2 separate regions of the Homo sapiens genome follow, and region 2 is linked to region 1. Evidence: fine-mapped expression QTL. A gene starts in region 1. The other region holds a variant in brackets. All regions are shown on one strand. Distances are between the middles of the regions.

Region 1 (12,623 bases):
GTGGGGGTGCTGGATGGGCATAATCCAAACTCGGACTCCTCCACGTCCTGGGTGGTAGTTTGGGCAAGTCACTTAACCCCTATGAGCCTCAATTTGCTCATCTATGAAATGGGGATAAGTAGCAATTCTCCCATGAGACTGTTATACATGAGAAATGTACACACTTTTCAGTGCATGGGGCTGGGGTCGTGGAGGGGAAGCTTCCCTTCTGAGGATGAGAATGGGGAAGGCCAGGGTGTGGGGAAAAAGCTTTCAATGGTGGGGACACTGGATGTGGCCCATAGAGGACATGGAAGAGTGGACACAGCTGAGAATAACCCAGCAGTTTTTTCCATCATGGACAGAGACTAGAGACCGAATGGGGCACTGGTTGTCTGGGCAACTGGTCCCCAGGTCAGAGCAGAGTCCAGGGGCAAATTGACAAAAGCCATCAAGATATTATGAGGTCCAGGGGGGTAAGTGTTCAGCCAGGGACAAAATGTAAAGGGTCAAAAGGAGGAGGATGTGATGGGGCTCTGCAGCAAGTGAGTGACAGGGCTTAGCAAGGACCAGTACCTTGGACAGCGCCTGACCTTTAAGGTCCAGGGCATGGTGAGGAGAAAGGTCTGTCTGGGGTAAGGTCTGTCTCGGGTAAGGTAGGCTTTAGTGACCATGCCGGGGCCTGCCTCTGTGGGCTGTTGAACATCCAGTCTCAAGGAGTGAACATGGCTTTCCTGAACCAAGAATCAAACCTCCAAAGACCAAGGACCCCAATCCAATGAACCATAAGGTTGAGCCAATCTCGACCCTGCCCAGGAGCCCTTTCCTGGTTGGCATCAGTTCTTCTAGGCCAGGTTGTCATTTCTGCAGGAAAGGCAGGAGGGAATCCAGCTTTGCATCCTGTAGGGACAAGATGACCCTTTTGGCCACACATGGTATCCACCTCGACCATGCAAGAATCTGCCAGCTGTGAATATGTCCTCTAAAGATATTTGGCATCATGCTCTTCTGAGTTACTTCAGGATAAACCAGGGCTTATCATTTATCGGTGTCTTAGATCAGATCATTCTTTATTGGAGGCTCTCCTGTGCATTGTAGGATATTTAGTGCCATCCTTGTCCTCTACCCACTAAATGCCAGTAGAACCTCTCCCTCCCACTTGTAACAAAATGTCCCAAATATTGCCATATATCTTCCAGATGGGAGAGAACTGCCCTGGTTGGAAACCACTTCGATAAGCTCATCCTCTTCTGATGAAGCTGGTCTGCCTAGTGACCAGACTACTAGAACAGAAAGGCTTTCCCTTTTTGCCTTGCCTTCTGGGAAGCTCAGAATGTTTATTTGGTCTTAAGTTCCATGTAGCTGTAGTTGCAGGATTATCTTCCTGCCTCATCCCAGGAATGGTTTAAAACAGCCTTAGGCATTAGATGAAAACAGTCCATAGCAATTAAAAAAGAGCTGGATTTCAGCACAACTTGGAGCACTTTCTGACAATGAAAATGACCAGCCCTAGGATGGCTTGCCAGGGAAGAACAGAAACTGTACTGGAAATGTTTAATCCTTGGGGAAAGACACTACATCAGGATTATTCTGGATGTATTTTATGGATTTATGACTAACCCTCCTATATTCCACTCACTCCCTTCCTTCCCCCAAAAGCCTAGGGATTAAGACAAAAAAATATAGAATTGAATGTGAGAAACCAAGATTTTTTTTTTTTTCGAAACAGAGTCTTGCTCTTGTCACCCAGCCTGGAAAGCAATGGTGCAATCTCAGCTCACTGCAACCTCCGCCTCCTGGGTTCAAGCAATTCTCCTGCCTCAGCCTCCCAAATAACTGGGATTACAGGTGCCCACCACCGCGCCTGGCTAATCTTTGTATTTTTAGTAGAGACGGAGTTTCACCATGTTGCTCGGCTGGTCTTGAACTCCTGACCTCGTGATCTGCCCGCCTTGGCCTCCCAAAGTGCTGGGATTACAGGCATGAGCCACCGTGCCCAGCCCACCAAGATTAATTTTTAAAGGAAAACAACTTTCTCAGTGGTAAGCGTCACCCAGCAGCAGAATTCAGACCTGCCTTTCTGTCCTTAGGCAAAAATACACCCTGACCCTCACTTTCCTTATCTGTAAAATGGGAATGCCAATAGTTCCCGTTTCATAGAGTGGTTACAGGAATTAAATAAGAGGTGCATGTACCATGCTCAGAAGAGGGCCTGGCACTTGGCTGCAGCTCAGTGAATGGTGACTAAATGTGTTAATGTCTTACGTCATTTTGTTGCAAATGACAGAAACCAAGCTCCATCTGGCTCAAGGAAAAAAAGGAATTTTATTGATTTAGAAAAAGACAGGCCAGACGTGGTGGCTCATGCCTGCAATCCCAACACTTTGGGAGGCTGGGGCGGGAAGATCACTTGAACTCAGAAGTTCAAGACCAGCCTGGGCAACATAGTGAGATCTCATCTCCACTAAAAATAATTTAGAAAATTAGCTGGGCATGGTGGTGTGCACCTGTAGTCTCAGCTACTTGGGAGGCTGAGGTGGGAGGATTGTTTGAGCCAAGAAGATTGAGTCTGCAGTGAGCTATTATCATTCCACTCCAGCCTTGGCAACTAAGCAAGTTTCTGTCTCAACAATAACACACACACACACACACACACACACACAGACACACACACACACACAGAAACAAGAAGGTCTGAGTCTGGAATTGGGTCTAATATCAGGCATTTTGCATCAGGACTCTGTCCCCCTGGCCATCTCTCAGTCCTGTGTCCCTCCAAGCAACAGCAAAGGAAGATGCTGGTAGTATTTTCCAATCATTATGATTAGATCCCCCAGAGAAGGGCGGGGTCTTTCCACCACGCTCCCTCTATCGAATTTTGGTTTTTGTTTTGAGACATCTGTCACCCAAGCTGGAGTGCAGTGATGCAATCTCGGCTCACTGCAACCTCCGTCTCCTGGGTTCAAGCAATTCTCCTGCATCAGCCTCCCAAGTAGCTGGGACTACAGGCATGCACCACCATGCCCGGCTAATTTTTGTATTTTTTATTACAGACGGGATTTCACCATGTTGGCCAGGCTGGTCTTGAACTCCTGACCTCAAGTGATCCGCCCGCCTCAGCCTCCCAAAGTGCCGGGATTACAAGCATGAGCCACCACACCGGGCCCCATATTGGGATTTAAGGAACAGGCTGATTGGCCCATTTGAATCACTCACCGAGTTGTGGACCAATCACTGTGCCCAGAGGAAAACAATATGGTGATTGGTTTGCCCAGCTCAGGAACCCACCCCTAGGTTATTTAACTCCCCAAACCCAGCCAGGATCACGGCGCTGGAGCCCAACCTTAATTGACTGTGTCTCCTAAGGACAAATCTGTGTCCTGCCCCAGGTTGCAATCTGGAGGGTGGATTAGCTCAGCTAATAGGCTCTTCCCAGTGAGAGTGATTGTCAGCTTTGCAGACAAGGAATGTTCAGCGTTTGGGAGTAGTTTAGGGTGTCAGATGTCCTCCCATAATCCCAGTCTTATCTTCTACCTCATCATCTGCCTCGTCTTTTAGCCTGGGGCGGAAAATTCAGCTCTGAGGTTCTCACAAGATGAAGCAGATGATTCTCTGCTTTGAGAAGAAACACATTCCAGAAACTTGTGTCTTTCTTGCAAGACTTTGCTGAAGATTGCATGAAAGCTGCCCCAGGCCAGGCATGGTAGCTCACACCTGTAGTCCCAGCAAGTTGGGAGGATCGCTGAAGTCAGGAGTTTGAGACCAGCCAGGGCAACATAGTGAGGTTCCATCTCTACAAATAAAATAGTAATAATAGCCAGGCATGGTGGCTGTAGTCCCACCTACTCAGGAGGCTGAGTCCCCAGGTACTCATCTGTAGTCCCAGCTACTCAAGAGGTTGAGGTGGGAGGTTGGCTTGAACCCAGGAGTTCAAGGCTGCAGTGAGCTATGATTGTGCCACTGCACTCCAGCCTGGGTGACACAATGAGACCCTGTCTCTAAAAGAGAAAGAAAGCTTCCCCATATTCCAATATTCTGGTCCTTAGGAGACACATGGTTAGAGTTCCATGAAAAAATCAGTAACTATTTATTTATTTATTTATTTATTATTCATTTATTTTTGAGATGGAGTCTCGCTCTGTTGCCCAGGCTGGAGTATAGTGTGGCACGATCTCGGCTCACTGCAATCTCCACCTCCCGGGTTCAAGTGATTCTCCTGCCTCAGCCTCCCAAGTGGCTAGGATTACAGGTGCCCTCCACCATGCCCGGCTACTTTTTGTATTTTTAGTAGAAATGGGGTTTCACCATGTTGGCCAGGATGGTCTCAAACTCCTGACCTCAGTGAGCCGCCCATCTCAGCCTCCCAAAGTGCTGGGATTACAAGTGTCAGCCACCGCGCCTGGCCAGGCAACAATTTAATCCGCTGGTTTTCTTCCACATAACTCTAGTTTTCTGGGGGAAAGCTCTTTTACAAAGCCCCGTATACATCTAGACAGGTCGTGCATTGCATAACTTAAGGTGCCCTATTCACTTTATAGTCCATGTATGTGGCAACCCTGGCTCTCTATCCCATCTTTCTTTAGTTTGTTCCACATTTTAGGGTTTTTTTTAAAAGATTTTTTTTATTACTCTTTCCTTTCCAGGTAATAATTCCTAAATTAGTCAAGACTGTCACGGATGCAAAGAACAGACATCCACTAAAACCAGCTCAAACACCCAGAACATTTGTTGGTTTGTGGTACAGGAAAGAATGAGTTCTGTGGCTTCAGGTACGGCTATATCCAGGAGCTCAACAAATATAGCCAGAGCTATCTCTCTGACTCTTACTTGTACATCTTGGTGCATATTGTCCTCAGTCTGCAGACCGTTCTTTTGAACAACTGGGGAAAGTGGCTGCAGGCAGAATGAGCCCCCTGTGGCTCATAACCCCAGAAGTAGAGTGAGAACCTCCAATGTCACCTTCTCAACCCATACCTAATTATTGTGGCCAGGGGATAGGGGCCCTTTGATTAGAGTCCAGCTCACGTGGGACTGGGAAGGGGTGTTAGACACATGTGCATCTGGAGTAGTGGAGGGGACCCCACAAAGGAAAAGAAAGTACTGTTAGATTCTGAGCCAAAGAAACAACAGATGTCATCACATGTATTTGTAATGGGATCATCCAGGAAGTGTCAGGATAAGGAACCAGGGGCATAATCCAATTGAAGTTATCTCCAATCTCTCAGATCTGCTGTGGGCTCTGCGGAAAGATGGAAAGCAGGTCTCAGGCTGAGTCTAACACACATCTAGAAGGTTCAGGAAGGAAGAAGGAACCATAGGGTGTCTCTATAAGGAGGACATGGGGACAGAGGAGTATCTTATAGAATTTGGGCTTGTACTTGGTGGTTTGCATTTTTTGTTTTGTTTTTGTTTTTGAGACGGAGTCTCGCTCTGTTGCCCAGGCTGGAGTGCAGTGGTGCAATCTCGGCTCACTGCAACCTCCACCTCCTGGGTTCAAGCAATTCTCCTGCCTCAGCCTCCCGAGTAGCTGGGATTACAGGTGCCTGCCACCACGCCTGGCTAATCTTTGTATTTTTAGTAGAGACAGGATTTCACCATGCTGGCCAGGCTGGTCTCAAACTCCTGACCTCAAGATCCACCCGCCTTGGCCTCCCAAAGTGCTGGGATTACAGGCATGAGCTACCGCACCCAGCCTATACTGGGTGGTTTTACAGAGAATTACTAGGGTGGTATTGTCGGGAACCTGGGAGCGCTTTGCTGACTAGGTATTTCAGTGATTTTTGTCTCAGAGGTGGGAGGATGGCAGTTGGGTTGGAATTGTCGTCGGTAAGAAGTGGCAGTCATTTGTGTTCACTTGGAGAGGGGGATGAGAACTCATTTTTGTGGTTGCACAGGGCCCATGTCTCTATCTTGGTTCAGACATGGTCACAGAGTGGCCTTGCCTCATCATTGTTTATATTCTGTGACCATTGTTTATATTTAGTGGAGAACATCGCGGCCCAGCCATCAGGAGCTGATTTCCACTCTCTCTCCTGGCTGGCAGCGGGGATCTGTGTCTCCAAGGAAAGTTTGCCCCGAGCCCTTCCCGGCCCGGCGTAGGGTTCTCCGGAAACCATCACTCACATCTAGCACTTGGAGGCCTCCAGGGACAGCGGTGACCCACCATCTGGGTAGGAGGCTGAAAACACTAGAGGAGGAATATCCCAAATCTGTGCCTTGGCGGGTGTTACCCAGAAAGGGTGACGGGTTTCACCATGCAAAAAGGAAAAATTGGAGGAAGGCCAGGTTAAGCAAAAATAGACATGTTTTTAGATTGCAGAGCTGAGAGGCTTGGCTGTGCCTATGTGCGCTGCAAGTCTCCAAGAACAACATGTGTAGAGTTTTACGAACAAAGATAGAGTCAGAGACATGGGCAGGAGGCAGAGACAGAGAGAGAGAGACAGACAGACACAGAGAGAGATAGAGGCAGAGAAAGCAACAGAGGCAAAGAGATTGGAACACAGAGAAAGAGATGGGGACAGAGACACAGAGAAAGGAACAGAGATGGGAAGACAGGGACAGAGACAGAGAATGAACAGAGATAGAGAGATAGGGACGGAGAGAGACAGAGAGAGGGACAGGGATGGAGAGAAAGAGATAGGGCCAGGGCCACAGAGGGACTGAGACAGGCCCAGGAGGAGACTAGGGATGGGGCCAGGGCTGCGTGCGGGCGGGGCACGGTGCAGACAAAGGCGCGGCCGCGCGGTCGGGGTGGCCTGGCCGGGGACAAAGGCCTGCCCGGGGGGCGGGGGCAGCGATGGCGACGGCCGCGGCGGGCGCGGGCGAACTACAAGTCCCAGCAGCTCCCGCTGCGGCCCTCGGCCGGCCCCTCTCGCTCCCCGGGAGCGCCTGGCGGGGCCGCTGGGCCGAGGGGGCCGCCGGCGGGGCTGGCGGGCGGGGGGCTTCCTGCGGGCCCGGGGGGAGCCGGCGGCCGGCGCGGGCGCGGCGGGCCGGGCAGGGGCGAGGGGCGCCGGGTGAGTGTCCCTGCGAGCGGGCTGGGGCCGGGGCGGGGGGCTGGGTGGGGGGCGGGCGGGCGGGGGAGCTCCAGGCGCGGGGCGCAGCCCGGGGCGACCTCTAATCGTCCCCCGCCCTGCGCGCCGCCGGCCCTGGCCCAGGCGAGCGGGGGTCGCGGGAGCGATGGGGAGGGGACTCTGCGGCCAGCTCCGGCCTAGCGCACCCATCCCGCCGCTGGGGCCCGGGGGGAAAGGGCCAGGAGGTTGGGAGCCTTCAATCGGGCGGGGTGGGGGGCGCCCGCCAGCTCTGGGGTCTGGAGCTCAGGACGCCCCCTCCCTAGGAGGCGATCCAGGACCCCCTCCCCTCCTGATTCGAGGTATTGTTCCCACCTCCCGCCTGGGGTCTGGAGTTCAGGAGGCCCTGTCCTCAAAAGGGGGACCTAGGGGTTCCCTCTTCCCCCAGGACCCTAGGAAGGGTCCCAGCGATTGTTCCCTTGCCCCTCCAGTCTTGGGGTCTGCAGTTCTGGAAGCTCCTTTCCCTGGAGGTGATCCAGGGGTCCACCTGCCCTCACCCCTGGGAACTCAGGAAAGACTTAAGTGATTTCTCCTCCCACCTTCCAGTTAAGAGATGGGAATTCAGGGGGCTCCTTCCCCTGGAGGCAATCTAAGGGTTCCTCTGCCCCTGATGCAGGAGGGGTCCCAGGTCTTGTTTCCCCCACTCTCCAACTATGGGGTCTGGGTTGAGGACCGCCGTCCAGGAACTCGGCTCTGTTTGCCTGCACACTCCCAGCTATGGGGTTGTGGCTCAGTGTATTCCTTTCCCCAGAAGGGGAGCCACAGGTCCCCCCACAGCTTCTCCCAGGAGCAGATCATTCATTGTTGACACCTCAACACCCAGCCATGGGGTGGGGAGCTCAAGGCATCCTCCCGGCAGGTCATCCTGGGCTCCCATTGCTCCCCAGAAGTGGTTCCAGCTTTTGTCCCTCTACCTCCCAGTCTGCCCCTAGCCACAAGCTGGCAATTCAGTTCAGGATCCTTCCTGCAGGAAGGGCTACAAGTGTGCTGACACTACCCGCCATGTCCCAGCCATGGGAGGAGATGACTCAGGCGTTCCCCCATTAACTTCAGAGGGTCCCCAGGTATTATTTTTGCCTATCCTCCAGCTAGAAGTTAAAATGCAGGACCTTCTAGCCAATAGGGAAAACAGGTATACTGGCCGGGCATGGTGGCTCATGCCTGTAATCACCATACTTTGGGAGGCTGAGGTGGGAGGATCATTTGAGCCCAGGAGTTTGAGTCCAGCCTGGGCAACATACCAAGACCCCATCTCAAACATAAATAAATAAATAAAACAGGTATACTAACAACTGTCCCCACCATCCTGCCTATGGGGTTCATGAGTCTCCCTACCCATCCCTCCTCACCAGGAGGGGTCCCAAATATCACTCTACCATGCTCACTATCTGGCTGTAGGAAAGGGCATTTCCGATCTGTCTAAGAGAGAGGATTTGACACTGACTCCCACCTGGAGCTGTGAGCTCTGGAATTCAGGTTTTCTTTTCCCCAGAGGGCAAGCCAGAGTCTTCTTGTCTTTCCCCAGTGACTTGGGAGGGATACCTGATGTTATTTGTTCCATATTCTTATCCCCCAGACATGGGTTCTAGAGCTCAGAATGCTGCTGCTGGAGGGGGGCCTCCCTACCAGAACTCGCCCCCTAAATTAATCTGCCGCCTCCAAGTATGGGACAAGAATTCAGGCCATGTGCTCAGGAGCACAGAAACGCTGACACCCACACTGTTCCCCATGTGGGGACGCCCAGCAAGGGGGTAGGAAGCTAGGACTGTCTCCTCCACAGGACCCCAGCTTCCCACAAGAGGAGCCCAGGTTGGAGAGAGGTGCAGAGCCATGGAGTTGGGGACTAGAAACCTCTAGTGCTGGGTCTCATGACCTCCGTCCAGGTTTGGGGCTGAGAGGGGAGGGTCCTACCATGTCCCACCTGGTTCCCTCAACTCCCTGCCCTGGCTGGGGTAAGTCAGAAATCTCCTTGCAGTCAGAGACAAGGGAAGGATCCACGTGTATGCTCAGAAGTGAGTGGGGTTTGGCCAGGCACAGTGGCTCATGCCTGTAATCCCAGCACTTTCTGAGGCCAAGGCCAGAGGTTTGCTTGAGTCCAGGAGTTTGATACCAGCCTGGGCAACATAGCGACACCCCATCTCAAAAAAGAGAGACAGAGGGAGAGAGAAAGGAAAGAAGGAAGGAAAGAAGGAAGAAGAGAGAGAAGGAAGGAAAAGAAGGAAGGAAGGAAAGAAAGAAAGAAAGAGAGAGAGAGAGAAAGAAAGAAAGAAAGAAAGAAAGAAAGAAAGAAAGAAAGAATTGAAGTTAGCTGAGTGTGGTGGTGCATCTGTAATTCCAGCTACTTGAGAGGCCGAGGTGGGAGGATCGCTTGAGCCCGGGAGTTCCAGTCTGCAGTGAGCTATGTATGATCACATCACTGCACTCTAGCCTGGGTGACAGAGTGAGACCCCATCTCAAAAAAATAAAAATAAAGAAGTGGGGCTGGGCGCGGTGGCTCACGCCTGTAATCCCAGCACTTTGGGAGGCTGAGGCATGCAGATCACCTGAGGTCAGGAGTTTGAGACCAGCCTGTCTAACATGCTGAAATCCCATCTCTACTAAAAATACAAAAATTAGCCAGGCATGGTGGTGGACACCTGTAATCCCAGCTACTCAGGAGGCTGAGGCAGGAGAGTTGTTTGAACCTGGGAGGCGGAGGTTGCAGTGAGCCGAGATGGTACCTTTGCACTCCAGCCTTGGCAACAGAACGAGACCCCATCTCAAAAAAAAAAAAAAAAAAAAAAAGAAGTGGGTTCTGGGGGCACAATCGGGTCCCGTCTCTCATCCCTAACCAGACTCCAAAAGACACCCCCGCTCCCACAGAACCCACCTACCCTCTACCCTCTATCCTTGCCCTTGCAGGTCTTGCCCCAGAAGCTGCGGGCACATCCACGCCTGAAATGCGGCGCTCAGTCCTGGTCAGGAACCCAGGCCACAAAGGCCTGAGACCCGTTTATGAAGAGCTCGACTCTGACTCCGAGGACCTAGACCCCAATCCTGAAGATCTGGACCCGGTTTCTGAAGACCCAGAGCCTGATCCTGAAGACCTCAACACTGTCCCGGAAGACGTGGACCCCAGCTATGAAGATCTGGAGCCCGTCTCGGAGGATCTGGACCCCGACGCCGAAGCTCCGGGCTCGGAACCCCAAGATCCCGACCCCATGTCTTCGAGTTTCGACCTCGATCCAGATGTGATTGGCCCCGTACCCCTGATTCTCGATCCTAACAGCGACACCCTCAGCCCCGGCGATCCAAAAGTGGACCCCATCTCCTCTGGCCTCACTGCCACCCCCCAGGTCTTGGCCACCAGCCCCGCGGTGCTCCCCGCCCCCGCCAGCCCGCCCCGGCCCTTCTCCTGCCCGGATTGCGGGCGAGCCTTCCGCCGCAGCTCCGGGCTGAGCCAGCATCGCCGCACGCACAGCGGCGAGAAGCCGTACCGCTGCCCCGACTGCGGGAAGTCCTTCAGCCACGGTGCCACCCTGGCTCAGCACCGTGGCATCCACACTGGGGCGCGGCCGTACCAGTGCGCGGCCTGCGGCAAGGCCTTCGGCTGGCGCTCCACGCTGCTGAAACATCGCAGCAGCCACAGCGGGGAGAAGCCGCACCACTGCCCGGTGTGTGGCAAGGCCTTCGGGCACGGCTCGCTCCTGGCACAGCACCTGCGCACGCACGGCGGCCCGCGGCCCCACAAGTGCCCGGTGTGCGCCAAGGGCTTCGGCCAGGGCTCTGCGCTGCTCAAACACCTGCGCACGCACACGGGCGAGCGGCCCTACCCGTGTCCGCAGTGCGGCAAGGCCTTCGGGCAGAGCTCGGCGCTGCTGCAGCACCAGCGCACACACACGGCCGAGCGCCCCTACCGCTGCCCCCACTGCGGCAAAGCCTTCGGGCAGAGCTCCAACTTGCAACACCACCTGCGCATCCACACGGGCGAGCGGCCCTACGCCTGCCCGCACTGCTCCAAGGCCTTCGGCCAGAGCTCAGCGCTGCTCCAGCACCTGCACGTGCATTCGGGCGAGCGTCCCTATCGCTGTCAGCTCTGCGGGAAGGCCTTCGGCCAGGCCTCCAGCCTCACCAAGCACAAACGGGTGCATGAGGGTGCAGCCGCTGCTGCAGCTGCCGCGGCCGCTGCAGCTGCAGCAGCGGCCGCCGGCCTGGGCCTCGGGCCTGGCCTAAGCCCTGCATCCATGATGAGGCCGGGGCAGGTCTCCCTCCTGGGTCCTGATGCTGTTTCTGTGCTCGGCTCTGGCTTGGGCCTCAGCCCTGGCACCAGCTCTGGCCGCAACCCTGACCCTGGCTCTGGGCCGGGCACTCTGCCGGATCCCAGCTCCAAACCCCTCCCCGGCTCCAGATCCACCCCCAGCCCTACTCCTGTGGAATCTTCTGACCCAAAGGCTGGGCACGACGCTGGTCCCGACCTTGTGCCCAGCCCAGACCTTGATCCTGTGCCCAGCCCAGACCCTGATCCTGTGCCCAGCCCTGATCCCAACCCTGTGTCCTGCCCTGACCCCTGTTCTCCCACTCGTGGCACTGTCAGCCCAGCCCTCCCTACCGGCGAGAGTCCAGAGTGGGTACAGGAGCAAGGGGCACTGCTGGGGCCTGATGGCTGAAGGAGACGCCGGCATCCTCGGGGGCCTGGGGAAGTTGTGTGTTGTGCAGTCAGTAAAATCCTCCCACTGCCTCCGGGCTCTGTGTCGTGGCTTGCCTTTTGTGCTTTCTTTCTGAGCACAGCCCCTTGCTCCGGAGATGGGACATTGTGGCCAGGGCCAGCCACAATCTGGAGCTCCAGTGTCCTGGCTTCCTTCTTGGGCCCACCAGCTAGACTTTCCAGCTTAACCCACAGTGTCTCATCCTGGTCCATCCCACTAGTCACCACTCTCTGTTCCTCTCACTTACCCCTTGCTCTTCAAAGCCCATACAGTAGGTATACAAGTGGACAAAAAAAGTTGCTCATTTATGCAATCAACAAACATCTCTGGATTGCTGGGGTCTCAGCAGGGAACAAGATAAATATGGCCTCGACCTGCATGGAGCTCATAGATACTAAATTCAGAATACTTAAAAAATAATTACGGGGTATAGTACATTCTAGGAGAAGCATAACAAGACTTCTGATATAAATGGCAGGCAGCTTTCTCAATGAAGGATTTTGTAATCCCAATAATCACTAATTTAATAATCAGTACTGTTTGCCCAGCCTTATGCGATAGTTTTTGCATTCTCTCATTTAATCCTCTCAACAGCCCCAGTAGGTAGATGACTTTGAATATCCCCATTTTGCAAATGAGAAAATTGAGGCACATTTTTTTTTTTTTTTTTAGACAGTCTTGCTCTGTTGCCCAGGCTGGAGTGCAGTGGTGTGATCATAGCTCACTGCAGCCTCGACCTCCTGGGCTCAAGCGATCCTCCCACCTTAGCCTCCCGAGTAGCTGGGATTGCCGGTGCATGCCACCGCCCACTGCGCTCAGCTTGGAGTTGAAGGGACTCTGGAAGATGTAGAAGTGGCATTGTCAGTGCCTAGATTTAAATCCCAATTGCCCT
Region 2 (17,215 bases), 170 kb before region 1:
GTCTGTAGGTGCCCACCACCTGCCCAGCTAATTTTCACCATGTTGGCCAGTCTGGTCTCGAACTCCTGACCTCAACTGATCCACCTGCCTCAGCCTCCCAAAGTGCTGGGATTACAGGCATGAGCCACCAAGCCCGGCCCCAAATTCTTAATTTTCTATTTCTGTTGTGTTTTTTTCTTATCAATGTGTGAAATCTCTTTGCATATAAAGGTACCAACCCTTCTCAGGCAACCAATTCATCTTTCTTTATTGCTTTTGTATATACTTCCCTGATAATTTATAAAATTATTCTGTTAGTTATATTTATTTTTATTATAAGATTTTTAACAGATGTTTATATAGTTTTTTGTTTGTTTCGTTTTGTTTTGTTCTGTTTTGTTTTTGAGACAGGGTCTTGTTCTGTCACCCAGGCTGGAGTGTGGTGGTGAGATCTCAGCTCACTGAAACCTCTGCCACCAGGGTTCAAGTGATTCTCCTGCCTCAGCCTTCCGAGTAGCTGCAATTATAGGTGCCCACCACCACACCCAGTTAATTTTTGTATTTTTAGTAGAGACAAGGTTTCTGCATGTTGGCCAGGCTGGTCTCTAACTCCTGGCCTCAAGTGATCCACCTGCCTCAGCCTCCCCAAGTGCTGGGATTACAGGCATCAGCCACTGCACCCGGCCACGTTTATATAGATTTTTATGTATTAAGTATTTCTGTGGTTTCATTCATAGCTTCTGGGTTTTCTGTCTTAGTTAAAACACACACACAACAATTTCAAAAAAAGCATGTTTTCAACCCTCAATTGTAAAAATAGCCTTGTAAATTCCTTCTATGATCTGTATTGGTTTATTGTTCACATTTCATCTTTAACCCAACTGAAATTATGTTGTTTTCTGCAGCACAGGAATATTTCACTCTGCCACGTCTCTGTCAAAAGTGGGAGAAAAGGCCAGGTGTGGTGACTCACATTTGTAATCCCGGCACTTTGGGAGGCCGAGGAGGAAGGATCACTTGAGGCCAGGAGTTTGAGACCAGCCTGGCCAACACAGTGAGACTACTCCAAGAAAAAAATAAGCGTGGTAGAAGGAAGGGCAAACCCGTGTCTCACACCCCATGGCCCTCACTAACTCAGGCTGCTGCCTGGCCCCTGTAAGCCTTCCGGCTTTCCACAAGGGTCGGTTTTTTTTCCTGTTTTGCTTTCTGTGGTCTTTCTGGCCAGAGGAGAAGCCATGGGGAAGTGCTGCCCCCACGTGGCCATCTCCATGATAGCAGCTAAGGCTGGAAGAAAAAGGCTTTTTGTTGTTGTTGTTTGAGATGGAGTCACTAGGCTGGATTGCAGTGGTACGATCTTGGCTCACTGCTATCTCTGGCTCCCAGGTTCAAGCGATTCTCCTGCCTCAGTCTCCCGAGTAGCTGAGACTACAGGCGTGTGCTACCATGCCCGGCTAATTTTTGGATTTTTAATAGAGACGGGGTTTCACCATATTGGCCAGGCTGGCCTTGAACTCCTGACCTCACGATCCGCCTGCCTCGGCCTCCCAGAGTGCTAGGATTACAGGCATGAGCCACCGCACCTGGCCAAGGCATCTTTTAAAGCTGAAAGCAAAATAGGTTCACAGGCCCCTGCTTAAAACCCTCCAGGGGCGGCTGATGCCTGTAATTCCAGCATTTTGGGAGGCCGAGGTGGGAGGATCACTTGAGCCCAGGAGTTTGAGATCAGCCTGAGCAATATAGCGAGACCCTGTCTCTACAAAAAATAAAATAAGGCCGGGCAGGGTGACTCATGCCTGTAATCCCAGCACTTTGGGAAGCCGAGGTGGGTGGATCACCTGAGGTCAAGAGTTCAAAACCAGCCTGACCAACATGGTGAAACCCCATCTCCACTAAAAATACAAAAAAAAAAAAAAATTAGCCACGTATTGTGGTACATGCCTGTAATCCCAGCTACTTGGGAGGCTGAGGCAGGAGAATCTCTTGAACCCAGGAGCCGGAGGTTGCAATGAGCCAAGACTGCGCCATTGCACTCCAGACTGGGCAATAGGGTAAGACTCTGTCTCAAAAGGACAAAAATAAAATAAAATAGCAAGGCGCGGTGTTGTATGCCTGTGGTCGCAGCTACTCCAGAGGATGAGGAGGGAGGCTGGCTTGAGCTTGGGAAGTCGAGGCTGCAGTGAGCTATGATCACACCACTGTACTCCAGCCTGGGTGACAGAATGAGACCCTGTCTCTCAGAAAACAAGAATAAAAACTTTATTTACAAAAGTAAGCATTGGGTTAAACTTGGCCTAAAGGTTATACTTTGCTGACCTGTGTTCTATTGCATATATTCTGCTGGACGTGATGGCTCACATCTGCAATCTCAGCACTTTGGGAGGCCGAGGCAGGTGGATCACTTGAGGCCAGGAGTTTGAGGTCAGTCTGGCCAACATGGTGAAACTCTGTTTCTACTAAATATACAAAAATTATCCAGGTGTGGTGGCACATGCCTATAATCCCCAGCTATTCGGGCGGCTGAGGCAGGAGAATCGCTTGAACCCGGGATGCGGAGGTTGCAGTGCAGTGAGCCGAGATCACGCCACTGCACTCCAGCCTGGGAAACACAGTGAGACTCTGTCTCAGAAACAAACAAACAACACCACAAAAGAAGAAGGAAGGAAGGAAGGAAGGAAGGAAGGAAGGAAAAAAAATCTCTCCAGCGGTACATACCCAAATGTTGAAAGCAGGGACTCAAAACAAATGTTTATACACCCATGTTCTTTTTTTTTTTTTTTTGAGATGGAGTCTCGCTCTGTCGCCCAGGCTGGAGTGCAGTGGCGCGATCTCGGCTCACTGCAACCTCCGCCTCCCGGGTTCAAGCAATTCTCCTGCCTTAGCCTCCCAAGTAGCTGGGACTACAGGCGAGCGCCACCACGCCCAGCTAATTTTTGTACTTTTAGTAGAGACGGGGTTTCACCATGTTGGCCAGAATGGTCTCGATCTCTTGACCTCGTGATCCACCCGCCTTGGCCTCCCAAAGTGCTGGGATTACAGGCGTGAGCCACCACGCCCAGCCTATACACCCATGTTCTTAGCAGCATGATTCACAATTACCAAAAGATAGAAATAACCCAATTATCCACCAATGGAATATGATTCAGATGCAAAAAGAAGGAAATTCTGACACCTGCTGACATGGATGGACCTTAAAGACATTACGCTGGGTGAAAGAAACCAGGCACAGTAGGACAAATCCTGTGTGATTCCACTTATAGGAGGTCCCTACCGTCACTAGATTGACAGAGACAGAAAGCAGAATGGTGGGTGCCAGGGGCTGGGGAGGGAGATGGGGAGCGAGGGTTTCATGGGGACAGAGTTTCAGTTTGGAGATGAGAAAGTGCTGGAGATGATTGCACAACAATGCGAATGCATTTAATGCCACTGAACTGTGCACTTAGAAATGGTTAACAAGGGCCAGGGGCGGTGGCTCACGCCCGTAATCCCAGCACTTTGGGAGGCCGAGGTGGGTGGATCACCTGACATCAGAAGTTTGAGACCAGCCTGGCCAACATGGTGAAACCCTGTCTCTACTGAAAATACAAAATTAGCTGGGCATGGTGGCAGGTGCCTGTAATCCTAGCTACTTGGGAGGCTGAGGCAGGGGAATCGCGTGAACCCAGGAGGTGGAGGTTGCAGTGAGCAGAGATTGCGCCATTGCATCCCAGCCTGAGCAACAAGAGAGAAACTCTGTCTCAAAAAAAAAAAAAAAAAAAAAAAAAAGGTTAAAATGGGCTGGGGGCAGTGGCTAATGCCTGTAATCCCAACACTTTGGGAGGCTGAGATGGGAGGATTGCTTGAGTCTAGGAGTTTAAGACCAGCCTGGGCAACATAATGAGACCCCTTCTGTACAAAAAATAATTAAAAATTACCCGCTCATGGTGGCACGCACCTGTAGTCCCAGCTACTCGGGAGGCTGAGGCAGGAGGATTGTTTGAGCCTGGGACATTGAGGCTGCAGTGAGTTGTGATCCCACCACTGCACTCCAGTCCAGGTGACAAAGACCCTGTCTCAAAAACAAACAAACAAACAAACAAAAACAAAGGGTTAAAATATAGAATTAATCATGTCTTTTGCAGCAATATGAATGGAACTGTAGGCTGTTATCATCTTAAGTAAAACAGTTCAGAAATAGAAAGTCAAATACCGCATGTTCTCACTTATAAGCGGGAATTAAATCATGTGTATACGTGGTCATAGTGCGGAATTTTAGACAGTGGAGACCCGGAAGGGGTAAAGGAGGAAGGGCGGGAGGGGTAAGGGATGAGAAATGACTTAATGGCTACAATGTACATTACTTGGGCGATGGTTACACTAAAGCCCAGGCTTCCTGCTGCGCAATCTATCCATGTAACAAAGTTGCCTTTATACTCCTTAAATGTATACACATTTTAAAAATCATTTTTTAAATTTAAAAAAATGGTTAAGGCCAGGCACGGTGGCTCACGCCTGTAATCCCAGTACTTTGAGAGGCCGAGGTGGGCAGATCTCTTGAGGTCAGGAGTTCGAGACCAGCCTGGCCAACAGGATGAAACCCCATCTCTACTAAAACTACAAAACATTAGCCAGGTGTCGTGGCAGGTGCCTGTAATCCCAGCTACTCAGGAGGCTGAGGCAGGAGAATTGCTTGAACCTGGGAGGCGGGGGTTGCGGTGAGCCGAGATCGTGCCACTGCACTCCAGCCTGGGCAGCAGAGCGAGACTCCGTCTCAAAAACAAACAAACAAAAAAGGTAAAAGGGTAAATGTTATGTTATGTGTCTTTTCCCACCAACGCAAGCAGTAAAGGGTAGAGCAGGTGGTGGCCCTCCCTGCGGGCTGGACGGGGTGGTGGAGGGGAAGGAAGGGAGCCAGGTGTGCACAGCCGAGGGGTGGCCTCTGCATTCGGCCTTAAGGCCAATATCAGGTGTCCGGGGCGCAGTGGGGACAGAGGCCAGGGTTCAGAGAGTGGGGAAGCGTGGACAGGAAGTGTGGACGGTACTCCCAAACAGCACAGAGTATTTCTACAGCACAGAAATATTTCACTCTGCTATGTCTCTATCAAAAGTGGGAGAAAAGGGCAGGTGCGGTGTGTCGTATTTGTAATCCCAGCACTTTGGGTCCTGTGACAGTCCTCCTCCGCCTGGCTCCAGCCACACCTGCTTCCTTCTGTTCCTCAAACACCCCAAGCTCAGTCTTGCCTCCAAGCCTTTGCCCTGGCAGTTTTTACCACCCAGAATAACTTTCCCCTAGATTTTTTTTTTCTCACTCTATCACCCAGGTGGGAGTAGGGTGGCACAATCTCGGCTCACTGCAGCCTCTGCCTCCCAGATTCAAGTAATTCTCCTGCCTCTGTGTCCCGAGTAGCTGGGATTACAGACAGACGCCACCACACCCGGCTAATTTTTGTATTTTTAGAAGAGATGGGGTTTCCCCATGTTGGCCAGGCTGGTCTTGAACTACTGACCTCACGTGATCCACCCGCCTCGGCCTCCCAAAGTGCTGGGATTACAGGCGTGAGCCCCCACGCCCAGCTAGACATTGATTTATATGCCTGACTTCTTCTGAGCTTACAGATCTCAGCTCAAATGGCCTTCCCTGACCTTCCCAGCTAAAGCATCAACCTCCCCCACCCACTCTATCGCATCACTCTGTTTACTTCCTGTTGCGGCAATTCACAGCACCTGAATTTATCTCCTAGGTGTGTTTCCTGATTCACTGTTTGCCTCCCCCAGCTGGAGCTCCTGCAGGGCGGGGGTTTGTGTCTGTCTTGTTCACCGTGATCCCACACCTGCCACAGTGCCTGGCATACAGTAGGTGCTCGATAAATGCATGTTGCCTGAAAGAAATAATCAACTGGTTACAGAATGGGTGTGTGCAAATCTGTGTATATCTGTGTCTCCTTGTGTTCTGTGTGTGTCTCGTTGGTGTGATTCTGGGGATGGCCCCACCTGTGTCCCCAGGGACAAGCGCGGCGCTATGGGCCAGTGAGTGTTTGTGGTGAGGGCTTTCCGGGTCTGTGTGTTAGTGATTTTGAGTGGTCCCGTGGCAACCGGTGTGCAAGTCAGTGTCTCCAGAGGTGTTCTCAGAGGTGGCCAGCATCTGCTCTTTTTTGTTGTTGTTGTTTTGTTTTTGTTTGTTGTTTAAGATGGAATCTCACTCTGTTGCCCAGGCTGGAGTGCAGTGGCATGATCTTGGCTCACGGCAACCTCCGCCTCCCGGGTTCAAGCCATTCTCCTGCCTCAGCCTCCCGAGTAGCTGGGATTACAGGCACATGCCACCACACCCGGCTAATGTTTATATTTTTAGTAGAAATGGGTTTTCACCACGTTGGCCAGGCTGGACTCAAACTCCCGACCTCAGGTGATCCACCTGCCTCGGCCTCCCAAAGTGCTGAGATTATAGGCATGAGCCACCGCGCCTGGCCAGCAGCATCTGCTCGTGTGTGTGTGTGTGTGTGTGTGTGTGTGTGAGTGTTCTGTGTGACTGTGGCTGTGAGTCCACATGTGTGTCGGGGTGTTTGTTGTGTATGTGTGTCTGCATGCCCATTCTGCATGTCCACATGACACTGCATGCTCCTGTGTGAAGTTGTGCCCATGAGCACACGTGTCTGTGTTTGCGTATCCTTGTGTGTCCTCTGGGTGTGTCCTTGAGCTTTGTGTTCCAGGAGCCTGCAGCCCTGTTGTGCAGCGCTGTTGTGCTCTGTTGTGCACGTGCATGTGTCTCGTGTCCTCTGTGTGTGGGGTGGCTCCTACATGTAGTTGTGCACACTTGTATCTGCCTCTGTGAGTCCCTGTGCCTATGTGTGACCATGTGTGAAGTGTGATTGTGCAGTATCCCAAAACCATCTGTGTGCACCGCTGTGCAGTAGTGTGCTGGTAAATGTTGAACCTCTCCAGTGGAGAGCACTGATTTATAGCATTGCCAGTCCTCATGGTGTAAATACTCTCGCCACAGCCAATTTCAAGTGATGCCACCGAACAGTGAGTCAGAAAGATATGGACAGCAGCAAACCATTATACAGTATTTCTACCAAACAGGTTCCATACACAAAAGCAACATCAAAAGCATAGATTATGAGGCCAGGTGTGGTGGCTCACACCTGTAACCCCAGCACTTCCGGAGGCTGAGGTGGGCGAATCCTCTGAGGTCCGGAGTTCGAGACCAGCCTGGCCAACATAGTGAAATCCCGTCTCTACTAAAAATACAAAAATTAGCCTGGTGTGGTGGGGGTCACCTATAATCCCAGCTACCTGGGAGGCTGAGGCAGGAGAATCACTTGAACCCAGGAGGCAGAGGTTGCAGTGAGCTGAGATTGCACCACTGCACTCCAGCCCGGGCAACAGAGCAAGACTCCATCTCAAAAAAAAAAAAAAAAAAAAAAAAAAAAAAAAAAGGAAAAGGAAAAAAAGCATAGATTATGGAAAATGCAGCAAAAATAATGTTAAAGTGATTAATTTAAATGTGGTAAAATAGGCATAACGTAAAATTTACCATTTTAACTTTCTTTAAAAAAAATGGGATTTCACTCTGTCACCCAGGCTGGAGTACGGTGGCACAATTATAGGTCACTGCAGCTTTGAACACCTGGGCTCAAGTGAGCCTCCCCGCCTCAGCCTCCGGAGCGGCTGGGACTGCAGGCAGGCACCACCAAATGTGGCGAAGTTTTAAATTTTTTGTAGAGTACTCACTCCAGTGACAGGCTGAAGCCAGCCCAAGAGCCAAGTTTAGTGGAGCATCATGGCTCATGCCTGTAATCCCAGCACTTTGGGAGGCCAAGGCGGGTGGACTGCTTGAGCCCAGGAGTTTGAGACCAGCCTGGGAAACATAATAAAATCCCTGTCTCTACAAAAAAAAAAAATTAACTTAGGCTGGGCGCCATGTCTCGTGCCTCTAATCCCAGCACTTTGGGAGGCCAAGGTGGGAGGATTGCTTGAGCCCAGGAGTTCGAGACCAGCCTGGGCAATATGGTGAGACCCTGTCTGTACTAAAAATACAAACCAAAAAAAAATAGCCAGGCGTGGTGATGTGTGCCTGTGGTCCCAGCTACTCAGGAGGCGGAGGTGGGAGGATCACTTGAGCCCAGGGGATGGAGGTTGCAATGAACCAAAATCACCCCCACTGCACTCCAGCCTGGATGACAGAGTGAGAGCCTGTCTCAAAAGAAAAATTATATATAAAAAATTATATATAAATTATATATAAGTCTATATATAATCCATATATAATTATATATAAAGTATATATAAATTATACATAAATTATCTGTAAACAAAAAACTTAGCCAGGCATGGTGGCATGTGCCTGTAATCCCAACTACTCAGGAGGCTGAAGCAGAAGGATCACTTGAGCCCAAGAGATTGAGGCTGCAGTGAGCTATGATTTTTCCACTGCACTCCAGACTGGATGACAGAATGAGACCCTATCTCTAAAAATAAAATAAACAGTTTTTTGTTGTTGTTGTTGTTGTTTTCTAAAAAAAGCCAAATCTGAGCATTTCCTATCAACTCCACACTCGGTGACATCACACTGGTAGGTGAAATCGGCCATGCTGGGGGTATTTACACCAGGAGAATTGGCAATGGCTACAAATCGGAGAGGTGGTTGTTAAACGTTACCAGCACACCATGTTGTTCCGCCAGCTTCCAGGTACCCATGTAACAATGTAGCCACGTGTGTTTCTGTCTCTCTGTGTGTACCCACCATGCTGGTGTGTGTCTGGGTGCCTGAGTCTCTACGGATACACATGACCTGCACGTCCCTATATGTTGCTGTCTATACACCCATGTGCCTGGGTGAGGCCCCCACACCCTGTTCCTCTTCAGCAGTTGGTTCCACAGGAAGCTGCTGGGGTGGGGGTTGAGGACGCTGGGCCTCCCTCCAGCTCCCCACCCCTCCTCCTCAAGACACCTGCATGCGCAGGGCTGAGGGGTGGGAGCAGGGCTCTCTGCCTCCAGAACCCCCATCCTCTGGGCTCTTTTTAGGCCCCTAGATTGGCCTGCAGCTGGGAGCAGAGTGGCAAGCATGCAGGCAGGCAGTTGAGAAAGAGGAAGTCGAGGTGCTATTGGGTCATTCTGTGGTTATCCCAGGCTCTACCCAGCCAGCGGTTCCCTTGGGCCAGCTCGAAACGCTGGCCGTAGGTCATGGGAGCTGCAGGAGCTGTTAGCCAGGCTAGGTGCCTGCAGGTTGAAGAACTGAGCTCTATCTGGTAAGTACTTATCCTGGGAAGTGGAGAGAGATGGACCCATCGGGACAGAGTGGCAGTGGGGTCTGGGAAGTCTAGGGGGACAGCGAGCAGACATACATCACTGTTTCTCTCCCCCTTGCAGTCAACTTGCTTCCTGAGTGGGTGGGGGAAGCTGTTTGACCCTTGCGTTCATTGTGCAGAGATCTGTGGTCATAAGAGGTCACCCCAGGGGACGGGGATCCTTGAGGGGCTGCTAGGTAAGAAAGGAGGGTGGAGGCCGGGCGCGGTGGCTCACACCTGTAATCCTAGCACTTTGGGAGGCTGAGGAGGGCGGATCACTTGAGGTCAAGAGTTGGAGACCAGCCCGGCCAACATGGTGAAACCCCGTCTCTACTAAAAATACAAAAATTAGCCAGGCGTGGTGGCGGGCAGCTGTAATCTCAGCTACTCGGGAGGCTGAGGCAGGAGAATGGCTTGAACCCGGGAGGTAGAGGTTGAAGTGAGCCTCTCAGTCTCAAAACAAAGAAAAGAAAAAGAAAAGCAAAGAAAGGACGATAGAGCTCCTTGTAGCCAAGGCCCTCCTGCGTGGAGACAGGAGACAGAGAATGAATGGGGGAGCTGGGGCAAAGGCTCAGGTGCCCTTTGCATCTTAAACTGCAGATTCCGGGCCCCCCAAGAACCTCCCTGTTGCAGATTCTGAATCCACTGTCAAAACAAACTCACACTTAAGGCTGATGGCTGACAACCAGCCCTGAGAAGGGTCTTGTCCTGATCTGAAATCATCCAGAGAGCACATCCCTCCACCCAGGCAGCCTTCCTCCAGGTGAGGGTTCTCCCCCTTGGGAGACATCCCCTGTCTCCTCTCGTGGCCCCTTCTTAGGGGGACCTCCTGCACCACCGCCTGCCTGGGACTGGGAGGGGTGGGGGAGGAAGGCTGC[G/A]GTTTCTGCTGGGCACACCCAGTCTGTTGTTTCCTGCCAGCCCCCAATGCTGCAGGGCAGGCTTCAGGCACCCTGAGGTCTAGGAAGGTGGCCCCAGAACCAGGAGGGAGTGAATTGAGCTAGAGTGGACAGCTGGGGCCAGAGAGGATGGAGCTAGGAAGTGACGCTGGGGGCTGATGCTCCAAGGCCAGGTCACCTGCAGTTCTGAGAAAAGAACATGACAACCAAAGGAGGTCAGGAAAGGGTTGCCCTCATAATCAGCCACATTTCAACTCCCTTGCTGTGACTGGGAGTCACTCTGGGAGGGCTGCTTGGTAGAGGCAGCCTTTTCATTATGCCTTGAAGAACCAGTAGATGGCAACTGCAAACACGTCGGTGCTTCTGGTCTGGGCTGTCTCCCATGCCTCCCTGGGCATCCCCTAGCCCATGACAAAGGGATGGGCATATGTTGATGCTCGATACTGTTGTAGATGACATGGTGACTGTGTTGGACAGCTGGGCGTTCAAATCCCAGTTCCCTGGCCTCTATGTGGCCTTGGGCAAATGACTTAACTGCTCTGAGCTTTCGTTTGCTCATCTGTTAAAAGGCTGTTGAGTTTTTTGGGGTGGGTGTGTGTGTGTGTGTGTGTGTGTGTGTGTGTGTGTGTGTGTGTGTGTGTGTTGGAGATAGAATCTTGCTCTATCGCCCAGGCTGGAGTACATTGGTGCAATCTCAGCTCACTGCAACCTCCGCCTCTCGGGTTTAAGCAATTCTCCTGCCTCAGCCTCCCAAGTAGCTGGGATTACAGGCACACGCCTCCATGCCCAGCTAATTTTTGTATTTTTAGTAGAGACAGGGTTTCACCATATTGGTTAGGCTGGTCTTGAACTCCTGACCTCAGGTGATCTGCCTGCCTTGGCCTCCCAAAGTGCTGGGATTACAGGCATGAACCACCTCGCTCAGCCTTTATGAAGTTTGGTCTGTGAGATCTTAGTGCAGTGTCTGGCACGTAATAGATCAGAAAACATTGTCAGCCTCACCTATGCCTTCATACTGACCTTGTCCCCAGGCCTTCCTTCCTGAGCAGTCCCACCATCTTCTGAAATGTTCTGGGTCATACCCATGGTGGATCTCAATCTGTAAGCAAGTCTGCTAGAGTGGACTTCTTTTGTTTGTTTGTTTGTTTGTTTGTTTGTTTGTTTTGAGATGGAGTCTTGTTCTATTGCCCAGGCTGGAGTGCAGTGGCACGATCTCGGCTCACTGCAAGCTCCACCTCCCGGGTTCACGCCATTCTCCTGCCTCAGCCTCCCAAGTAGCTGGGACTACAGGCGCCCGCCACCATGCCCGGCTAATTTTATGTATTTTTAATAGAGACGGGGTTTCACCGTGTTAGCCAGGATGGTCTTGATCTCCTGACCTTGTGATCCCCCCACCTCAGCCTCCCAAAGTGCTGGGATTACAGGCATGACCCACTGTGCCCAGCTAGAGTGGACTTCTTAAGGATCCCATCCAGCCATCCCTGTATCATATGCTACTGTATTTTCTCTCTGCCTCTCTCTCTCTCTCTTTTTTTTTTTTTTTTCTGAGACAGAGTTGCCCAGGCTGGAGTGCAGTGGCACAGTCTCAGCTCACTGCAACCTCCACCTCCTGGGTTCAAGCAGTTCTCCTGCCTCAGCCTCCTGAGTAGCTGGGATTATAAATGCATACCACCACACCTGGCTAATTTTAGTAGTTTTAGTAGAGACAGGGTTTCACCATGTTACCCAGGCTGGTCTTGAATTCCTGACCTCAGGTGATCCACCTGCCTTGGCCTCCCAAAGTGCTGGGATTACAGATGTAAGCCACTGCACCTGGCCTGTTGTATTTTTAATTCTAGCATCTTTATCTCCTGTAGGGCTGTTGCTATTGTCTGTGTTTCTTCTTGTTTTTTGGTCATGAGGTTCTGTCTTCTAGTATGCCTGGTAGTCTGATTAAATGCCAGGCCTTGTTTGTGAAAAACTATAGGGATAATTTGTGTCTCTTTATGGTGTCATTTTCCTCCATAGAGCGTTTATTTTTGCTTTGGGCAGGCAGTTAGAGAAAGGAAAGATCACTTTAATCTGATTGTGACCTATGCTGACTTGAAGATGGATTTTGCTCTCGGTGAGGGCTAGTCTATGTCTGGTCCCTCCTTGCTCCTAGGGTGTAGTCTTTTAGGGGTGGCAATCACCTCCTCTTTTTGGGCCCTGAATTCCAATGTTTATTTCCCCAACATAAGATTGCTAAGAGCTACATTCAGGTTCTCAGGCTTTTTCTGGTCTGCCTCCCACTCACTCAAGAACTGTGTTCAAATCAACAACTTGTTTGTGAGGGAAAAGCATTACATTATGTCCTTCTCACTTTCCTAGGTTTCCTTTTTTTTTTTTTTTTTTTTGAGATGGAATCTCACTCTGTCACCCAGGCTGTCGTGCAGTGGCATGATCTGGGCTCACTGCAAGCTCCACCTCCCAGGTTCACGCCATTCTCCTGCCTCAGCCTCCCGAGTAGCTGGGAATACAGGTGCCTGCCACCACGCCCGGCTATTTTTTTGTATTTTCAGTAGAGACGGGGTTTCACAGTGTTAGCCAGGATGGTCTCGATCTCCTGACCTCATGATCCGCCCACCTCGGCCTCCCAAAGTGCTGGAATTACAGGTGTGAGTCGCCGTGCCTGGCCTTTTTTTTTTTTTTTTTTTTTTGACATAGACTCTTGCTCTGTCATCCAAGCTGGAGTGCAGTGGCATGATCTTGGCTCATCACAACCTCTGCCTCCCAGGTTCAAGCGATTCTCCTGCCTCAGCCTCCTGAATAGCTGGGATTACAGGCATCCACCACCATGCCTGGCTAATTTTGTATTTTTAGTACAGACGGGGTTTCACCATGTTGGCCAGGCTGGTCTCGAACTCCTGACCTCCAGTGAGTTGCCCACCTCGGCTTCCCAAAGTGCTGGGATTACAGGTGTGAGCCACCGCGCCTGGCCCCTAGGTTTCCTTTCTTTCCAGGGCCGTGATTCTTCCAACTCTGACTGCCAATGCCTTCCAAGCAAGGGTGGTTTTTCACTCTTCCAATTTTGTCCAGCTTTTCTATTTGTTCTTGGTGGGAGAATAAATCTGCAATAAGCTAGCCTGCCATCATTAGAAATACATATTCCAGCTGGGTGCAGTGGCTCACGCCTGTAATCTCAGCACTTTGGGAGGCTGAGGTGGTTGGATCACCTGAGGTCAGGAGTTCGAGACCAGCCTGGCCAATATGGCAAAGCCCTATCTCTACTAAGAATACAAAAAATTAGCCAGGCATGGTAGCGGGCGCCTGTAATCCCAGCTACTTGAGAGGCTGAGGCAGGAGAATCACTTGAACCCGGGAGGCAGAGGTTGCAGTGAGCCGAGATTGCGCCATTGCATTCCAGCCTCAGCAACAAAAGTGAAACTCCATCTCAAAAAAAAAAAAGAAAAAGAAAAGAAAAGAAAAAGAAAAAGAAATAGATATCCCTGTTGTATTTTTTTAAAGTGAGATTTAGCCAGGTGTGGTGGCTCACACCTGTAATCCCAGTACTTTCGGAGGCCGAGGTGGGAGGATCACCTGAGGTTAGGAGTTCAAGACCAGTCTGGCCAACATGGCAAAACCCTGCCTCTACTACAAATACAAAAATTAGCTGGGCATGGTGGTGCACGCCTGTGATCCCAGCTACTAGGGAGGCTGAGGCAGGAGAATCGCTTGAATCTAGGAGGTGGAGGTTGGAGGTTGCAGTGAGCTGAGATCAGCCACTGCACTCCAGTCTGGGTGACAGAGCAAGACTCTGTCTAAAAAAAAAAAAAAGAAAGAAAGAAAAAGAAAAGAAATAGATATCCCTGTTGTATTTTTAAAGTGAGATTTGGCTGGGTGCCATGGCTCACGCCTGTAATCCCAAAACTTTGGAGGCTGAGCCAGGAGGGTCACTTGAAGCTCGGAGTTTGAGACCAGCCTGGGCAACATAGAAGACCCCATCCCTACAAAAAAGAAAAAAGTAAAAAAAATAGCCAAGTGTGATAGCATGCATGTACATTCCCAGCTACTCAGGAGTCTGAGGCAAGAGGATTGCTTGAGCCAACGGGTTCGAGGCTGCAGTGAGCTATAGATCATACTACTCCAGCCTGGGTAACAGAGTGAGATCCTGTCTCAAAAATAAAAGTTAAAAAATAACAGGCTCATGCCTGTTATCCCAGCACTTTGGGAGGCTGATTTGGGGCTGGGGGTGATTTGGGGCTGGGAAGTAATGTAAACAATTGGGAGACTGAAGGAGGGAGTCACACAGCAAGTACGTGCTGGAGGAGCTGGGATTTGAAGCCAGGATTTGAAGCAGGGATTTTTCAGACACAAGGAGTGAAGACGCTGATAAAGGAGCTTCCACCACGAGGGGGCAGCACCTGCACGGATGAGCACTCGTTGACACACACACACCATACCCCACACTTGGGTACAGAGAGAAAGGTGATGTGGCTCAATGCCTGCAATCCCAGCACTTTGCGAGGCCGCGGCAGGAGGATCGCTTGTGCCTGGGAGTTTTGAGACCAGCCTGGGCAACATAGTGAGACCCCAGCTCTACAAAAAATACAAAACTTAGCCAGTGTGGTGGCACACACCTGTAGTCCTAGCTACTCAGGAGGCTGAGGCCGGAGGATCCCTTGAGACCGGGAGTTGGAGGCTGCAGTGAGCTGTGGTCACGCCATTGCACTCCAGCCTGGGTGACAGAGCAAGACCCATCTCAAAACTAACAAACAACAAACAAAAAACAGAAACAGATGAAGACACAAATATGTAGAAACACAGAAACCCAGGCGGACACCAAAACCACCTCATAGATACTAGAAACAGATCTCCCCAAGACACAGATGAGTCATGTAGTTAAATCTGACCTCACGGATACCAATGGGCTTCACACACACACACACACACACACACACACACACACACACACACACAGACAATCACAGAGACACTTTTAAAACTATCTAGATAATCAAATACACCCCCACATTGACAAGCTGATATTCAGAACTCACCCTGAAACACAGAATCACAAACCCAAAAGCACGTGCTCTCTACACAACATGGAAATGCATCATCAAACCCACCAAGACGATGGCACGCACACACACACAAACACTCAGACATCCATGCACACCCAGGCTCCCCGAGGGACCCAGTTTGTACTTGTATTTCCCTAAGATTGTCTTGTCCAGCCAGGGTAAGAGGCCTGTAAGACTGGGTTTAAGGGACAGAGGGTGCTAAAGGGCTTGGCTTCTCCTCAAACCAGGGGTCCCTGGGCCCCTGAGCTGGAAACCCCAGCCCCCCTGCTGAAGCCCCAGGCTTCTATCAGCTGATGTATCTGGCAGACCTTGGAGGCAGTCTCCGCCCCTCTTACTGGCAGCCCCATCCTGGCAGGGATTCCCAGGCCAGCTCACACTCAAGCTCTCACACGCACGCATGGCCCCCATGGCTGACTCGGTGCTCAACCACTCCTGGCCGGCCTTCTCCAAGCTGTGGCTGAAGCGGTGGGCCTTCAAGAGAGGTAAGCAGCTGGCAGTGACCAGCGGGAGCCATCCACCCAGGTGGGGATCCCAGGACAGCCTGCCCGCCATCCCCCTTCGAGCTTTTTCTTGGCTGCAGTACAGACTCTGCTGGCATCGGCCCTGGATTCCATGACCCCTGATTCTCCAGGGCCCCCTGGAATTATCACAGACTTGTGGGGTCCCTCTTGTTTCAGAGGAAATGTCTCCCAAGACTTGGCCAGGAATTTGTCTCGGGCGGTAAATTTGCAGAAAGAAAGTCCGCCCTCTTAACTCAGCCGCTGAACTCCTCAGGGGCAGCCCAGCGATCTCCTGGGGGTCCCAGATGCTGTTGGTTTCTGGCCCAGCTGCAGGACAGGAGGCTCAGGGCAGAAACAAAAACGGGGGGATTAGAGGCTCTGGGGCACACACCTCCCTCCAACACACATACACACACACATCGGCTGGTGCTCTCTCTCTCAACCCCCAGGGTCCCCAGGCCTCAGGTGACCTCTCTGGGGACTGATAACAGCCTTTATTATGTCATCAAAGGCCTGAGTGAACTGTTGTTGCAAAGAGAGACACTTTTTCTTTTTTTTTTTTTTTCTGAGACCGAGTCTCATTCGGTCGCCGAGGCTGGAGTGCAGTGGCGCGATCTCAGCTCATTACTGCAAACTCTGCCTCCAGGGTTCAATTCATTCTCCTGCCTCAGCCTTTCGGGTAGCTGGAATTACAGGTGCCCCCCACCACACCTGGCTAATTTATATATTTTTCGTAGAGACGGGGTTTCACCATGTTGATCAGGCTGGTCTCGAACTCCTGACCGCAGGTGATCCACCTGCCTCGGCCTCCCAAAGTGCTGGGATTATAGGTGTGAGCCAGCGCGCCCAGCCATCAAAGAGACACTTCTTAATGCTCAAGAGTTTAGCCCTTGAAGATAACCAGATGATGTCCTGGTACGTAGGGCATGAGAGGACAGTGCTGGACAATATCATAAAAGCTGGTCATGCACTCATTGCCTCATGGGTTTTCTTGTCTCCGGCTCCCCACTGCCCATATGAGCGCCTCCTGGTCAGGCCAGCCGCATCGCTTAGCCTGCATGACTTGTTAGTCACAGCCACCATCACCTGCATGAGCCACGTACTTGTTCAAGGTAGCAGTGAGTTTTCATGAAAGAGGGGGCCAATGTGAAGATTCGTTAGCTCATTCATTCCACTGACCCTCCTTGAAGGCTCATTGTGTACCAGGCACTGTGCCGGGGTCAGGGAGCAGATGGGAGTGCCAGGGGACCCAAGGGCTGGGGTTAGGGGGAGAGAGGATGGCCTGGGAACTGGGATGCAATAGAAGAGTAATCATCAGGATAAAAGTTGTTGGTGGCTGTTGAGCTCTCATGAAGTTGGGCTCAGAGAGGTTGAGCGACTTGCTCGAGGTCACACAGCAAGTATATGCTGGAGGAACCGGGATTTGAAGCCGATTCTGTGTGAGGCCACTTTGATGTGTTCTGACTGATGAACAAAGCTGCCAGTGTGGGCAGCTGGAGTGCCTGGGGAGGGTTTTTAGATCCAACGGTGGA

The links.
Region 2: its variant is fine-mapped to the expression of ZNF358 in whole blood (TOPMed, PIP above 0.99). The same link has a PIP of 0.9 or more in CD4 T cells and T cells.

The regions. Positions count from the first base shown.
Region 1 is chr19:7,509,258-7,521,880 of GRCh38, forward strand. It overlaps ZNF358 (zinc finger protein 358), which reads left to right and starts at 6,846. Exons shown (of 2, transcript NM_018083.5): 1 at 6,846-6,992; 2 at 9,948-11,768. The coding sequence starts at 9,986. The coding sequence ends at 11,692. It overlaps LOC105372261 (a long non-coding RNA gene), which reads right to left. Exons shown (of 3, transcript XR_936294.3): 3 at 5,096-5,218. RefSeq lists a silencer at 6,678-6,927.
Region 2 is chr19:7,340,039-7,357,253 of GRCh38, forward strand. It overlaps ARHGEF18 (Rho/Rac guanine nucleotide exchange factor 18), which reads left to right and starts at 8,899. Exons shown (of 29, transcript NM_001367823.1): 1 at 8,899-9,203. RefSeq lists enhancers at 1,134-1,243, 1,304-1,373, 4,846-4,915 and a silencer at 14,425-14,544. The variant G/A (reference allele first, on the strand shown) is at 10,121.